Linked DNA regions of Homo sapiens. The protein of the gene in region 1 interacts with the protein of each later gene in a biochemical or structural test. Each region holds a gene or a part of one and is shown in the gene's direction. Other genes may lie near its edges.

Region 1 (7,108 bases):
ACTGTCATCCCAGGTGGTCACGCTTCTAGGTGTGCACTCTGTTTGCACCTGGCAAGCGTGTCAGTAAGTGCGCAAGACTGCCCATCAAAGAGCCAGGGCCCAGAGTTCACAGTGGCCCTAGTCACAACAGGCACGAGGTGCAAACAGCCCAGTGTCCATCGATGGAGGAATGGATAAACAGCACGTGGTCTGTCCATACAATGGAATATGATTCAGCCTTTAAAAGGAAGGAGATTCTGACCCCTGCTACAACACTGGGGAACCTTGAGCATATTATCCTAAGTGAAATAAGCCAGACATAGAAAGACACATACTGTAGGATTCAACTTCTGTGAAGTGCCTAGAGTCGTCCAATTCATAGAGACAGAAAGTAGAACGGTGGTTGCCAAGGGCTTGGGGAAGGAGGAGAAAGGACATCTATGGACATTTTGCCATATGGCATAATGGGTGCAGGGTTTATGTTTGCGGGATATTTTAAAGTTCTGGAAATAGGTAGTGCTGATGGCTCTACAACATTGCGAGTATTCTCAATGCCGCTGAACTGTACATTTAAATGTGGTTACAGTGGTAAGCCTCATGTTAGTATATTTTGCCACAGTTGAAAAAAAAAAAAAAAAACAGTCAGCATGTGTGGCCTCTAATGGCAAGTACCATAGCAGCAAATGGAGGAGATCACTGGGCAGAGGAGATCACTGGGCAGAAGTGATCAAGGAAGGCAGCCCTGCAGGACAGGCCCACAGCTGAGCCTGAGAGGGGATGGGGATCTTTGGGGAAGGAGGGGAGGAATTGCTAGGGGCCACAGCAGGGCTGTGCGCAGAGGGAGAAAGCATCAGGAGACAGGGCCACCCTGTGTCTGGGTTGGGGCTGGGTCCTCATGCTCACCACCTGGATGGGCTCACCAAGGCCACTGCATCTCCCACAGACCGGGGAAGAACACACAGTGACACATCTCCAGTACGTCGCATGGCCTGACCACGGTGTGCCCGATGACTCCTCCGACTTTCTGGAATTTGTAAACTATGTGAGGTCTCTGAGAGTGGACAGCGAGCCCGTCCTAGTTCACTGCAGGTATGGCGCTTGCTGTTTTGTTAGGTTTGGAATCCTTTCCCTGTCGGAAAAGGCCTGGAGACAATTGGCAGGCGCCAGACCCACCCTACATCCCACAAAGTCGTGTGCCCTTACAAACCTCTGTTGACTGTGGTTCTTCACCATTTCAAAAGTTTTTTGGAATTTTATGAAATCCTAACTTTGTGAATGTAGCACAGAACTGAAGAAGAAAATCCCCTCACACACCCTTTCTCCTGTCCTTCTGTCAGCTGACCTTCGTCATAGGTGTGAGTGAGAAAGGGAATAGGTTTGGCACTTCACAGTGGCCCTCTTTCCACTGCCTGCTAGCCCCCAGTCTCAGATGTGTGAGGACAGGCTGTCTCAGCCTGTTTGAGAGCACGCCGTGAGTGTGCGTTTTGTCTTCTCGAAGGCCAAGGGAGGAAAGCCCCTTTGGAGTCAGCGGGGAACTGCTCGCTGGGCCATGCAGAAAGGCTACTCAGACAAATCCCAAGTCTGTCTTCTCTCCCCTCTCCAGTGCTGGAATAGGTCGAACCGGTGTGTTGGTCACTATGGAAACAGCCATGTGCCTAACTGAGAGGAACCTGCCCATTTACCCACTGGATATTGTCCGAAAAATGCGAGACCAGCGCGCCATGATGGTGCAGACATCAGTGAGTAGAAATCCAGTAATTACGGTGGCTGGCACTTTCTGAGCACTTACACCAGGCAGGCCTGAGAGAAGGGCTTTGTGAGTCAACAGACTGCAGCTCAGGGGGACTGAATCACTTGCCCAAGGTCACAGAGCTTGTCAGTGGCTACAGCCCACACCCATCTCACCTCTGAGCTCTGCTGCCTCTGTGGTTTATTTCCTGCCAGCCCGTCTGTCAGGGAGCAGCCCTGGTTGCATTCTGTATCGTTGAACAATCATTTGTCCATTATCCTCCCCCGCACCGACCCACCTAGACCTGGGTACTCCTTTTGGCTCAGTGGATGTTGCATATGACCCTACTTTGAGCTCTGTTCCACCCGTGTGGTGCCTGAGTACCTGCTGTGTCCTCCACGGGCAGGCCAGAGCTCAAAGTAGGGTCATGTGCAACATCCTCTTGTCCTCAAGAGGAACTCTAGGGGATAACTCTTGGGGATTTCCCCTGGAACTGCAAGCGGGGCAGTGAAGCGGTGTGGAAAGAGCATGATTAAGGTCCCACCACAAATGGAACAACCTTTGCATAAGTCCTGAACCTCTCTCCAAGCTTCAGCTTCCCTGTGCAAAATGGGGACCATCCCACATTCATTCATTCATTCATTTGACAAAGAAGGGTGCAGAGACAGGCTTGTATCTAGTAGGAGAACTGGATTAGTCTATGCTAAGTGTCAGCAGCGGTGAGGGAAGTTCAGGGCTGTCTGAGAACATGGTGGAAGAGTATCTAAAGCAGGATTTGGAAAGTCTAGGAAGGCTTCCTGGAGAAGTGTCTTCTCTGGTAAAAACCCCCAGGGTACATGAGGAGTTAGCAAAGAAAGGAGCAGGAACTATATGTTCCAACCAGCTCTGTCTCTTCACAGGCTGTGGACAAAGTTTATAAGATTTCCCTAATAAATTTTTAAGCTTTGGTAGTTTTATATTAGTTTGTACCCAGAAAATCTTGTTAAGAGAAAAAAAATCAGCTTATGTTATTAGGGCCATTCTCTGCCCTGTTTTTTGGTATGGAAGACCTCGTGGCTGGTTAAAAAGAAAAAAGTCCATCATCCTGGTAGATTTTCCCAGCTGGAAGCTGGGCACGGTGGCTCACGCCTATAATCCCAGCACTTCAGCAGGCTAAGGAAGGTGGATCACTTGAGATCAGTAGTTCAAGACCAGCCTGGCTAACATAGTGAAACCCCGTCTCTAATGAAAATACAAAAATTAGCCAGGCATGGTGGCATGTGCCTATAGTCCCAGCTACTTGGGAGGCTGAGGCAGGAGAATCGCTTGAACCCAGGAGGTGGAGGTTGCAGTGAGCCAAGATTACGCCACTGCACTCCAGCCTGAGTGACAGAACAGGACTCTGTCTTGAAAACTAGATAGATAGATAGATAGATAGATAGATAGATAGATAGATAGATAGATAGATTTTCCTAGCTGGAGAAGCTCAGTCTAAATGCTTTTATCCCCCCTGTATACTTTGCTACAATATGTTTCTTAGGTATTTGCTAAGATAAATAACTGTATCCTGCAGAGCATCTTTCAGTGGCTCTGCTTTGTAAAACACAATCCAGACTCCTTACCCCAACACAAGGTGCCCACAACCAGGTCCCAGCCCACCTGTGCAGCCCCTCCTCCTCCACATGCCTAGGTGTTGAGTCCAGGAGCAGGCTCCCTGACCCCGTTTCTCAAAATGGGCTCTTACTGAGGCTTCCACACTTCCACTTACAAGAAGGGCTGTCCCGCAGGGACTTTTGCTCCTTCCCACCTCCCCCAGACCGCCAGTTTCTCCCTCTGTCATGTCTCCATGACACTTTGCCCACCCCTCTCTGGGAGTGCCCCCTCCCCGCATCATATAGGAACTAGGGCTTCACAGGTGTACCTGGCCTGTGGCCCAGAGTTGGCGCTCAGGGAATATTTACAAATGCTGCAAAAGACCCACCGGTACAGGGTGTGGTAGGCAGCATTTCCTGGAGCTACAGGACTTGACAGCATTTTTTTCTTTTCCAGAGCCAGTACAAGTTTGTGTGTGAAGCGATTCTTCGTGTGTATGAAGAAGGTTTAGTCCAAATGCTGGATCCTAGTTAAGACAACTGTGAAAAAGTTCATTCCTCTTTCCCAAGGGCATCCTCCTTGAAAGAGGAGGACAGACCTCTCTGGAAGCAGCAAGAGGAACCAGTAGCTGTGGGAAAGGAATGGGCACCTCTGAACCCAGGCACTTTAAACTTCTATAGAAAAGATATCGTGTACATAGGAACTGGTGTAGATAAGCATGCAATTATGGCATCATTTAGGCCTGTATTTCTATGGAAAGATACAAAAAGGATCTCAGTTTGGGGCCTGTCCTAATGCCTTCTTCCCTAACATCACCACACACACCCCTGTCGGCATCCTGGAGCAATTGAGACCGGACACCCACAGAGCTGTTGTCCTCCCAGCAACAAGATGGTGTGGTTATCTTGGGTCATTTGGATGTTTTGTTTGTTTCTGTGTGTCAGACTGTAAGGGCTGAGCTTTCTGTGCTTCTAGGTGGAGCTGGAACAATTCAGATTCACCCGCCCTGATGCTAAGGAAACCCTGACGTATGTACTAGATGGCAGGGCACTGGGGGTCAGGCTGAAGGCTGAGCAACACCTCTCTGCCCTCCCTCCCTTTGTCCCATCTCCCAGCGACTTCCAATATTCATGTTTCTGAGAATTGTGTCCCTCTTCAGGTTCCCTCTTGGTGCCTAACCTGGATTAGTAATGTGCATTCAGGTGAATTTTCAGCTGAGGCTCTGAGAACTGGTACTCTCAGTGTGTTCTGGTCATCTTGTGGCTTAGTTGTAGAAGCAGGTGTGTCTCTTGCCTCTGCTTGCCTCCTACTGCACACTCAGCACCCAGGACTGGAATCACCGACTACTGAATCTCCTACATGTATTGCTGCTACTTCAAGCTCCTCCACTTGAAACCTTATGATTTTCCCAAGGGGAGATGGGACAGTGTCATCTAAATATTCCGAATGTTTGGCCTTCTGAGAAAAGAGCTTCTAGTAATTGAACCATGGGAAACCCAGCTTCTGGAGGGTTGGCCGTGGGGCTGTGTACATGTGTGTGCCCAGGGGTGAGTGTTTCTCAGGATTCCTAACGATTCAAATTACCGTTGAGTATATATAAAGAATGAGTCTCTGTATGGAAGAACAAATGTGTGCATTCACCCCCAGTCACAATGGTCTCCATTGCATTTCAAAGGAGAGGATCAGACTATCTGAATATAAACACAATCTGATGTTAATTTATTCTAAGAACACCATCATTTTGATTGTCCTAAAGAATTCTGCCTTTGTGAATACCGTGTTAAATTTTTTTAAATTTGTGACAGGATTGTAGCAAATTATTATTTAAGGAAAATAAATTGTGTAAACATTTAATGTGGTATTTTTGAACAGCGGTTTTTATGTACTCAGAAGAGGAAGTAAAGCCAGGTTCTTAATGGTATTTATAGAAAAGATGTTTTCATATTATAATGCACATAAATGAAGCCATTTTGATATTCAGCAAATTCGGTGCCAATTGAATAGTTTGCTGGTAGCAAGACGGATGAAGACCTATATGGGAGATTCTTTATCTCTAGAGCTAGCATATTTACTTGCATACTTTGTTTCTTTTCCACATGGATATTTTACTGCTAAATGGCAGAGGTGGGAGGGAGATGTCACACAGTACCATAACCCCATATTGAAAACAAGAAACCACCAGAAAGTTTGCAGCTAAGGGGCAGGGGATTCAGTTCCTACGCCCACTCAGCACTAACTACTTGCGGGCCTGGTTGCTTAGAAGCTCTACCTCTCTTTCATTATCTGTAAAATAGAAACAATACTTAGGACTTTAGTTGGAACATGAGGATTGAATAAGATCACGCTATTCATGTGACTTTTTATCGGCTAGAACAGCAACAGACACTGCTGTGGGTGAGTTACTTAGAAAAGTTTAGTTATCAGTGATTAGCCCAAAAACACATCAGTCAAAAATAGAATCCACTGGATTTTTGTCTCTCTTTTTAGAGACAGGGTCTCACTGTCGCCCAGGCTGGAGTACAGTGGCATGATCATTGTTCACTGCAGCCTCAAATTCCTGGGCTCAAGCAATCCTCGCACCTCAGCCTCCTGAGTAGCCGGGACTATAGGCACATGCCACCTCACCTGGCTTGTGTGTGTGTGTGTGTGTGTGTGTGTGTGTGTGTGTGTGTGTGTGTGTGTGTGTGTGTGTGTAGAGACAGGATCTTGATGTGTTGCCTAGGCTGGTCTCAAACTCCTGGCCTCAAGTGATCTTCCCACCTCAGCCTCCAAAACTGTTGGGATTATAGGCGTGAGCCACTGTGCCCAGCCTAACTGGGTTTTTATGAGAGGAAAATAGAAAATGCTCTTCTAGAAGAGAGAGAACAAGAGCACAAAATAATCTGGACTCACAAAAATTCAGCAAGCTCCAAGAAAGGGGGATGGAGGGAACGCTGGCAAAAATTTAAATGCCATTAGGATATTTAGCAAGTTATTACTGTTTGGTAAAAATGCATCATCACCCTGTGTGCAAAATGCTTGCAAAGTAGTCTAAATGTCTTTGGAGATGGGTGTTTTACTGCTTTTTTCCAAAAACAAATTGTTTATTATGGTTGCAGAAATGCAGCCATTACGGTCACATAAATTTCTAAAAAGCCTACCAAAGGTTGCAAGCAGTCTTCTGCCACTGGGCAGGCCAGCAGTTCAGACCCAGCGAGGTTGCCAGGAACAAATCCAGGAAATACTGGGAAGAACAAGACAAGAGAATTACCTAAAAGAGCAAACAATTCAAGTAAATCCTGTAGCTATTACCACTTAAAATCCGTAGCTCAAGATTCCTGTTTCACCACCTTATACACTTAAGCAATTATACTTAAGCCTTTTTTTAGTCCTAAGTGAAGAACTACATCAGAATCAGGATAAGTATTTTGCCTGGGAAATTTGGCTGCATATGAATGGAGAAGACATTTACATCCTATGTTCTGGCACTTTCTGAAAGATCTAATTAAACATGTTGATGTGCCAATTTAATCAAGATGAGAGATCCCTGCTGGTGTCACCCTCTAGAACCTGCACTTGGTGTTTTGACTTTCCAGAAGAAAAAAATGCAACTTTGGTTAGGGGGCAGTGGTTGGATCACACAGTTGTCTTTCGTTTCCTACCACAGTAATTCATATTTAAATATGCTTTTAGATTAGTGTGGATACTATTGCTGCTGTGTTGCTACCTGACCTTTTTCTGGGGGGGGTACCTCAGAAATGAGCATTTGAGGGCAAGCGAAAAAGCCCTCTTCATCCTCCAGAGGCAACAAAGAGGCAGCAGAAATGGGGAAAGATTGTGAGAGGCAGG
Region 2 (7,000 bases), on another chromosome or scaffold:
GCATGAAAATCCCATCATGCTAGGCCCCTGTACAGTCACAGCCCCCATGGTTGCTCATCTCTGCGCTTCCTGTTTCCCATGGCCTTCCTTAGAGTAGGGGAGCTCTGGGCAGAGGGACAGGGTAGTTTTGGGTGTTGTGATATCCCCAACCTGAGGCCAGTATCCCGGCACTGGAGCCGGGGCTGGGGGACGAGACCCCATGGTATGGGTTGGTAGGAGTTCAAGGACATGCCCATAAGAGTGAGGGTCCATTCCGAGTGCCCCAGGTCCTCCTCAGGCCGGGCCTGTCTGCAACACCAGGAGCCTTCCTGCCTCCTTCTCCCTTGCCCAGCCTGAGCTCTAACTCCAAGCCCAGTTAAGTTTCAGGCTCCCAGCTCCAGAGACATAGATTTGAGGGGAGTAGACATCCCAGAAGATACAGGATTATCTCTAACCCCACATCCCCTCTTCCAAATACCCCCGGCCCAACCCACCTGGTTCCTGTGTGGCCAAAAAAGCCCTCAATGCTCTGAGAAGTTTAGCTGAGGCCAGTGGCACAAAAGACAGGCTGGGAGCACATGAAGAGCACATGTCATGGTCGTGTCCCCTCTCCTCATGCCCTTAGAATCATCTCAGCCTCACCCGTGGCCTCAGCAGGACTTCTATGAAGCCACGTTCCAGCCGCGGGAGCATTTTCACCTTTCGCAGGCGAGACCTGGGTTCTGAAGCAGATTTTGCAGATGATGAAAACAGCACAGCGGGGGAGAGCGAGAGCCACCACACATCACTGCTGGTGCCCTGGCCCCTGCGCCGGACCAGTGCCCAGGGACAGCCCAGTCCCGGAACCTCGGCTCCTGGCCACGCCCTCCATGGCAAAAAGAACAGCACTGTGGACTGCAATGGGGTGGTCTCATTACTGGGGGCAGGCGACCCAGAGGCCACATCCCCAGGAAGCCACCTCCTCCGCCCTGTGATGCTAGAGCACCCGCCAGACACGGTGAGCCAGCCCCGAGATGCAGGCACCACAGCAGGTCTGGTCTCCCAAACTGATCACCAGTGCCAAGTCCAAAAATACACGTCAAATATTTGTTGAGCACCTACTGTGTGCTGGGCTCTAGGTGCATAAACTTACAAAAAAAAAACTGGGCCCTCATAGAGCATCCATGCTAATGGGGACAGACAGACAAAACTCAAAAGAAAGCCAGGTGCGATGGCTCACGCCTGTAATCCCAGCACTTTGGGAGGCCGAGGTGGGGAGATCACCTGAGGTCAGGAGTTCAAGTCCAGCCTGGCCAACATGGTGAAACCCCATCTCTACTAAAAATACAAAAATTAGCCGGGCATGGAGGCGCGTGCCTGTAATCCCAGCTACTTGGGAGGCTGAGACAGGAGAATCACTTGAACTCAGGAGGCAGAGGTTGCAGTGAGCTGAGATCATGCCATTGCATTTCAGCCTGGGCAACAGAGTGAGACTCCATCTCAAAAAAAAAAAAAAAAAATCAAAAAGAAAAAATGTCTATATTGTGTGTAATGGTGATAAAGAGGGATGATAGTTAACTATGTCACAACTAGTAAAGCCTTCATTACCATCATCTGGGGAAGCCTGTTCCAGACACAAGGAACAGCAAATGTGAAGGCCCTGAGGCAGAACTCTGCCTAGCCTGTTGGAGGAGATGCCACGAGGTCAGTGTGGCTGGAACAGAGGGAGCGACGGGGAGAGAAGTTGCAGTGACTGTTACAAAGGTGATAGGAAGGGACTGGCCAGATTGTGAAAGGCCAATCAGAGCTTTGGTCACTTAGTCAGTTCTATGACAGACTGATGGCTGCCCAATCAGCCATCAGGTGTCCTTGCTGACCCCAGGCCCCCAACACAGTGACCAGAGCAGCCCACCCAGGAAAAAGCTGAACATCTGGCTCAACCCCCAAGGCCTGCAGAGCGCACTTGGAGAGGAAGGTAGAACAGATGGGAGGCTTGACCAGGAAGGTGGAGGATGGCCTGAAGATGCAGGGCTCCCAGCCACGTGGCTTATTTTGTGCCACTCAGACTCTCGCTCAATCTGTGGGACTTGGTACAGGTTAATTAATCTCTTTGTGCCTCAATTTCCTCATCTGTAAAGTGAAAATTATACGCCAGCAAGTTGTGGTGAGGACTGAAAGAGTGCAACTAGGTCCAGTGTTGAGACCAATACTTGCCTGGTCTTAGAGCCATTAGTATTATCTGTTATTGGTATTAGTAAGCAGGAAGGAGTGAGGATCCTGGGGTACACTGCAGAATGCCCAGGGCCCCACACTCCTCTGGAGCACAGGGTGAAGGGAGGAAACTGGGCACCCCTGGGGGCAGACCACAGCTTTAGGTAGAGCTGGGGAGGCCCTGGCCCATCTGAAGGGTGGGGTGTCTAGTTTCCAGGAACACTGAACCAGGCAGGTTCAGCCCTGGAGCCTCAGCCTCATGGAATCGGGTCAGCAGCTGGGAGCGCTAATAGAATTTCCTAATCTCATTAAGGAGAAAATCATCTCATTGTACTGCACATGTCGGGAGGAATCCAAGTTCAAGCACTTCATTACCAGGAATTCTGACTTCACCCATTCTCACTTCTGTGGGGCCCATTTGTAACCTTAAAGGGATTAGCAGGCCAAGACAGGGTCATTTGCAAAGTTAAAGGAATTAGCAAACCAAGATGGAGACATTTGAAGAGTCAAAGAGATTAGCAGGCTGCAGGCCCCTGGGAATGCCTTCTGTGCTTCCACTGGGTCCCCAGTGAGACGTTTCTGCCCAGTTCTAGTCTGAAAACAAAGCACAGGGTTGGGCACACTGTGGGTGCCTAATCAACAAGGATGGGAAGGAAGGGCCAGCCCAGCAGACAGCTCACGTTCAGTTTATCCAGATTGGGAGGTAGGGGCTGAAGACTTACTTTGCCCCTTGCTTGTATGAGACTGCCTGGTTCCAAAAGTCCAGATGGAGGTGGGAGAAGCACACTGAATATCCATTCCTTTTCTCCCCCTACATGTTAAATCTTCATCCTCATTTCCTGTGGCCACCTAGCAAGTTAGGAACAGAGCTGGAACTCTAACCCAAGCCTTCCGATTGATTCCCAAGAATTTATCCATCCAACCAATATCTATCTAGTGCCAGCCTGCCATGTGGCGTGCCAGGCAGTGTTGAGACTCCAGGGTTATAGCAGTGAACAAAGAAGGCAAGATCACTGTCTCTTGGAGTTTATACCGTAGTTAGGAAGACAGTAAACTGATCAATATTTTCAGGTAGCAATAAGTCATGTGATAGAAAGCTGCTAAGGGGAGGGATGAGGATGAGGGCTATTAGAATACTCAGGAAAGGCCTTCCCAAGAAGGTAACATTAAAATTGACAGGCAAATGATTTTAGGGAGCCAGCCCTAAAGATGCAGAGGAACAGCGTTCAGGCAGAGGGAATAGCAAGTGCAAAGCCCCTGAGGAGGACACATCCAAGGGATGAGAGGGACTAACAGGGCCAGGTGTGGTGAAACATTAAAATGAATTTCATGAGTTAGGATTTGGACTGTGCAGGGCCTTCTAGACCATAGATAAGTTTGGATATACTGTGTGAGTAAGATGGGGAGGAGTAGGGTGGGAGGAGTTGTTGAACAGAGGAGTGACATTATCTGATTTACTTTTTAAAGGAATCCCTTTCTACTATGCAGAGAATACAGGGATGAGAAGAAGAAAAGAAGCCAGTTAGGAGGCTGTTGCAGTGGTTTTGGGAAAGAGAAGATGACTGCCTGGACTAGGATGGTGTATTAGTCAGCTATTATAATAATAATGCTGTGTAACAAACTACCCCAGAAGTCAATCTCTAGCAACAAGCCTTTATTCTCATGCTCACTTATCTGCAAGTTAACTACAACATGGCCCATGTAGGTTAGGCTTAGCTGGGAAGCCCTGCTCCAGACGGCATGCTGGCTGGGCTGGGCTCCATGCTGTGGGTTAGGCTCAGGGCTGCTCTGCATCTTTGTTCTGAGGCTTAGGCTGAAAAGGTGACAGCTATCTGGGGAAGCTCTTTTCATGGAGAATTCCTGGAGCACAAGAGCAAGATAAACAGCACTAGCCCAGTTGAGGTTTCTGTTCACAGCATGTCCACTAACATTCTGTTGTCCAAAGCAAGTCATTCATGCCCAGGGCAGGGAAGTTAATTCACCCTCGGTGGGAGGGGAAAGAGAGTGCATATGTGCCAAGTGATAACCAAACTATCATAGATGGCAAAGAAGGAGGGGAGAAGTTGGGAGAATTTAAAACTTGCTTGTGAGTTAAGCTGGCCAAATTCATGGTTGCGTTGGACCTAGGGTAGTACCATTGCACCAGCCACCTCAGCCCTCTCAGGTGCCTCCACTTGAATACTTCCATGACTGGGAGCTCACTACCTCCCTAGGCAACATTTCAGAGCAGTCCTACCAATGGCCGGGATGTCCTTAACTTGAGCCCAGATCTATTTGGTATCCACCCTATGCCCTGCTTCTTCTACCCTGGCTAATCTAGGCCCATCTTCCCTCTGCCCTATGAAGATTAGAGTCTTGCTATTGCATGCTGAACAGCTCAGCACCTGGGCCGTGGTCATGCAGGGCCCTGCTGAAGTGAAGGCTTTATTGGCCCTCCTTGGTTCTGTGGGAGGCTCCAGGTAAGCCTAGAGAATGCCTGCCTGCCACCTCCCTTCACCAGGGCTGTTTCCAGGCCTGGGTTTTTTACTGATAAAAATGGTGCATGCATGGTGAAAACAAACCCCACAGTGCAGAAGTACATGAAGTGAAAAGGGAACTTCTCCCTCTTTTTCCCCTCCCCCACAATCCCATTCCCCAGATATGTCCACTTTAATTATTTGGTATGCATTTTCCAGATCTTTTTCTTGTTTTTTCATCAAACTGTTTGTCTTGGAGATGTCCGCATGGGAGCATCCAAAGAACTGCCTCGTTCTCTTTGTTGTCTATCAGAGCCCAGAGTTGGACTGTGTCTATAATTGATTTGAATATGGTTGCTATTGATTGGTGTTTTGTTCTTATGGTATTAGGAACACTGCTGCAATGAACATCATTTATGTGTATTTTTGATGCACATGTGTAATTATTTATGAAGTTAGATTACTAGACGAGGACTTGAGGGCCAATTTAAAATTTTCTTGGTAAATCCAGCCTAACTGCCTCCACAAAAGACACAGCCCCCCACCAGCCATATGTAAGCATTGTACTTTATCCTGCTATTAGCATTATCTTAGAGCATGTTAGATTTTTTTTTCAGCTTCTTTATGCTCTTGACGCTAGGAAACTTGTGGTCAGTTAAGACTCCCAGATCATTTTTGCATGTACTAATGTGTATGGCAGCATCAGGCTCAGGGAGGACCTGTGATATGTGTAGCTTCCTGACCACACTCAGGAATCACTGCTGATGAGAGGCAGTGAAGAAGAAAGGAGAATGAAGGAGACAGTGATTGGGAGGAGGGGTGGAGGGAGTTCTTAACTGGGAGGGAGTTGGGAACAGAGAAGCCCAGCATCCAGTGTCCCATCAAGACCTTCATCCTATCCCTGTGGCATCCCCAGCCTGAGTCTGGACCGGCCTCCCCAGGTCCAGCAGGACAGGAGCTGGGGGCAGGACCCTTTTCCCCAGGCTGACGCAAATCTCCTGATTGCACTCAGACCACGCCATCGGAGGAGCCAGGCGGGCCCCAGATGCTGACCTCCCAGGCTCCGTGTGTAGATGGCTTCGAGGAGCCAGGAGCACGGCAGCGGGCCCTCAGCGCAGTCAGCGTCCTCACCAGCGCACTGGAAGGTCAGCAACCCCAGGTCATTTAAGCACCCCCCACTTCCGCTGCAGGTACCCTCATCTTTATCCCAGCCTGACCCAGGCATCCCCCATTTGTCTTGGCCTGCTTTAGACATCCCCACACTGTCCCAGCCTTCTCTGTTCTGTGTAGCCTTGCCTGTCCTTCCATGTCTTTTCATCTGTTTCAGCTTGTTCTCTCCTGGGTATCACCATGCCTGTGTTTCTCCCAAATACTCCCACATCTGGCCTGTCCCAGATGCTTGTCAGTCTCATTCCATCATCTCCCAACCATAACCATGTCTATCTAGGACCATCCTGTCCTGAGCATACCCATGCCTGTTCTAGCTATTCCCATATCTACTTCAGACTATTCCAGGCATCCTACATCTTTCCCAGCCATTCCTGCCCTAGGCAACTCCACATCCCTTCCAGTCTGAATGGGGCACCCCCCATCCTGATCTTGTTCCCTCCTATCTCGGATGTATTCTCATCTTTTCCAGCCTGTCCTTGGCATCCCCTCTCCCATTTGTCCTGACACATCCCAGATGTCCACATCTGTCCCTGCCCATTCTGTCCCAGGTGTCCTCGTGTCTGAACTTGCATGTCCCCATTACTGTCTCATCATTTTCAGCCTGTCCTCCCCTGAGTGTCCCCAGGTCTATGTGGGACTGTTGTCTTAAGCAGTTGTACGTTTGTCCTGATAATCTCTCCTGTCCCCATTTTCCCCACCTCCATCTTTGTTTCCTGTCCCTATGGACCTCTTCTCTCATATTTCCAGATTAAGGAGCCAGGACACAGGCCACCCACTCCCTTGGCCTTCCCTGCTCCCACTGTCCCGCTGTCACCTAGCAGCCCTGTCATCTCCCAGAGCAAGTCATAAATCTTTCCTGGAAGGTATTCCAGTTACATATGACTCAGTCAACAGAATCAAACTAACTCATTGGCTGTCCCCTCAGAGTTAGAGGAGTCTCGCCACAAGTGTCCACCATGCTGGAACCGTCTCGCCCAGCGCTACCTGATCTGGGAGTGCTGCCCGCTGTGGATGTCCATCAAGCAGGGAGTGAAGTTGGTGGTCATGGACCCGTTTACTGACCTCACCATCACTATGTGCATCGTACTCAACACACTCTTCATGGCGCTGGAGCACTACAACATGACAAGTGAATTCGAGGAGATGCTGCAGGTCGGAAACCTGGTAAGGGCTGCCTGCAGCTGGCTCTCAAATGGGCATCCTGG

The links. Proteins that work in one complex are often made in the same cells at the same time.
Region 2: the proteins of PTPN3 (region 1) and SCN5A form a complex in vitro, tested with the Homo sapiens proteins (2 studies listed by IntAct, with this or other methods).

What each region holds. Positions count from the first base shown.
Region 1 is NC_000009.12:109,376,262-109,383,369, reverse strand, and holds part of PTPN3 (tyrosine-protein phosphatase non-receptor type 3), read left to right. Parts: intron 1-922; coding exon 923-1,068; intron 1,069-1,582; coding exon 1,583-1,718; intron 1,719-3,736; coding exon 3,737-3,814; 3' UTR 3,815-7,108.
Region 2 is NC_000003.12:38,597,688-38,604,687, reverse strand, and holds part of SCN5A (sodium channel protein type 5 subunit alpha), read left to right. Parts: intron 1-604; coding exon 605-976; intron 977-5,637; coding exon 5,638-5,770; intron 5,771-6,720; coding exon 6,721-6,959; coding exon of another isoform or gene 6,960-7,000. UniProt on the Homo sapiens protein: Pore-forming subunit of Nav1.5, a voltage-gated sodium (Nav) channel that directly mediates the depolarizing phase of action potentials in excitable membranes.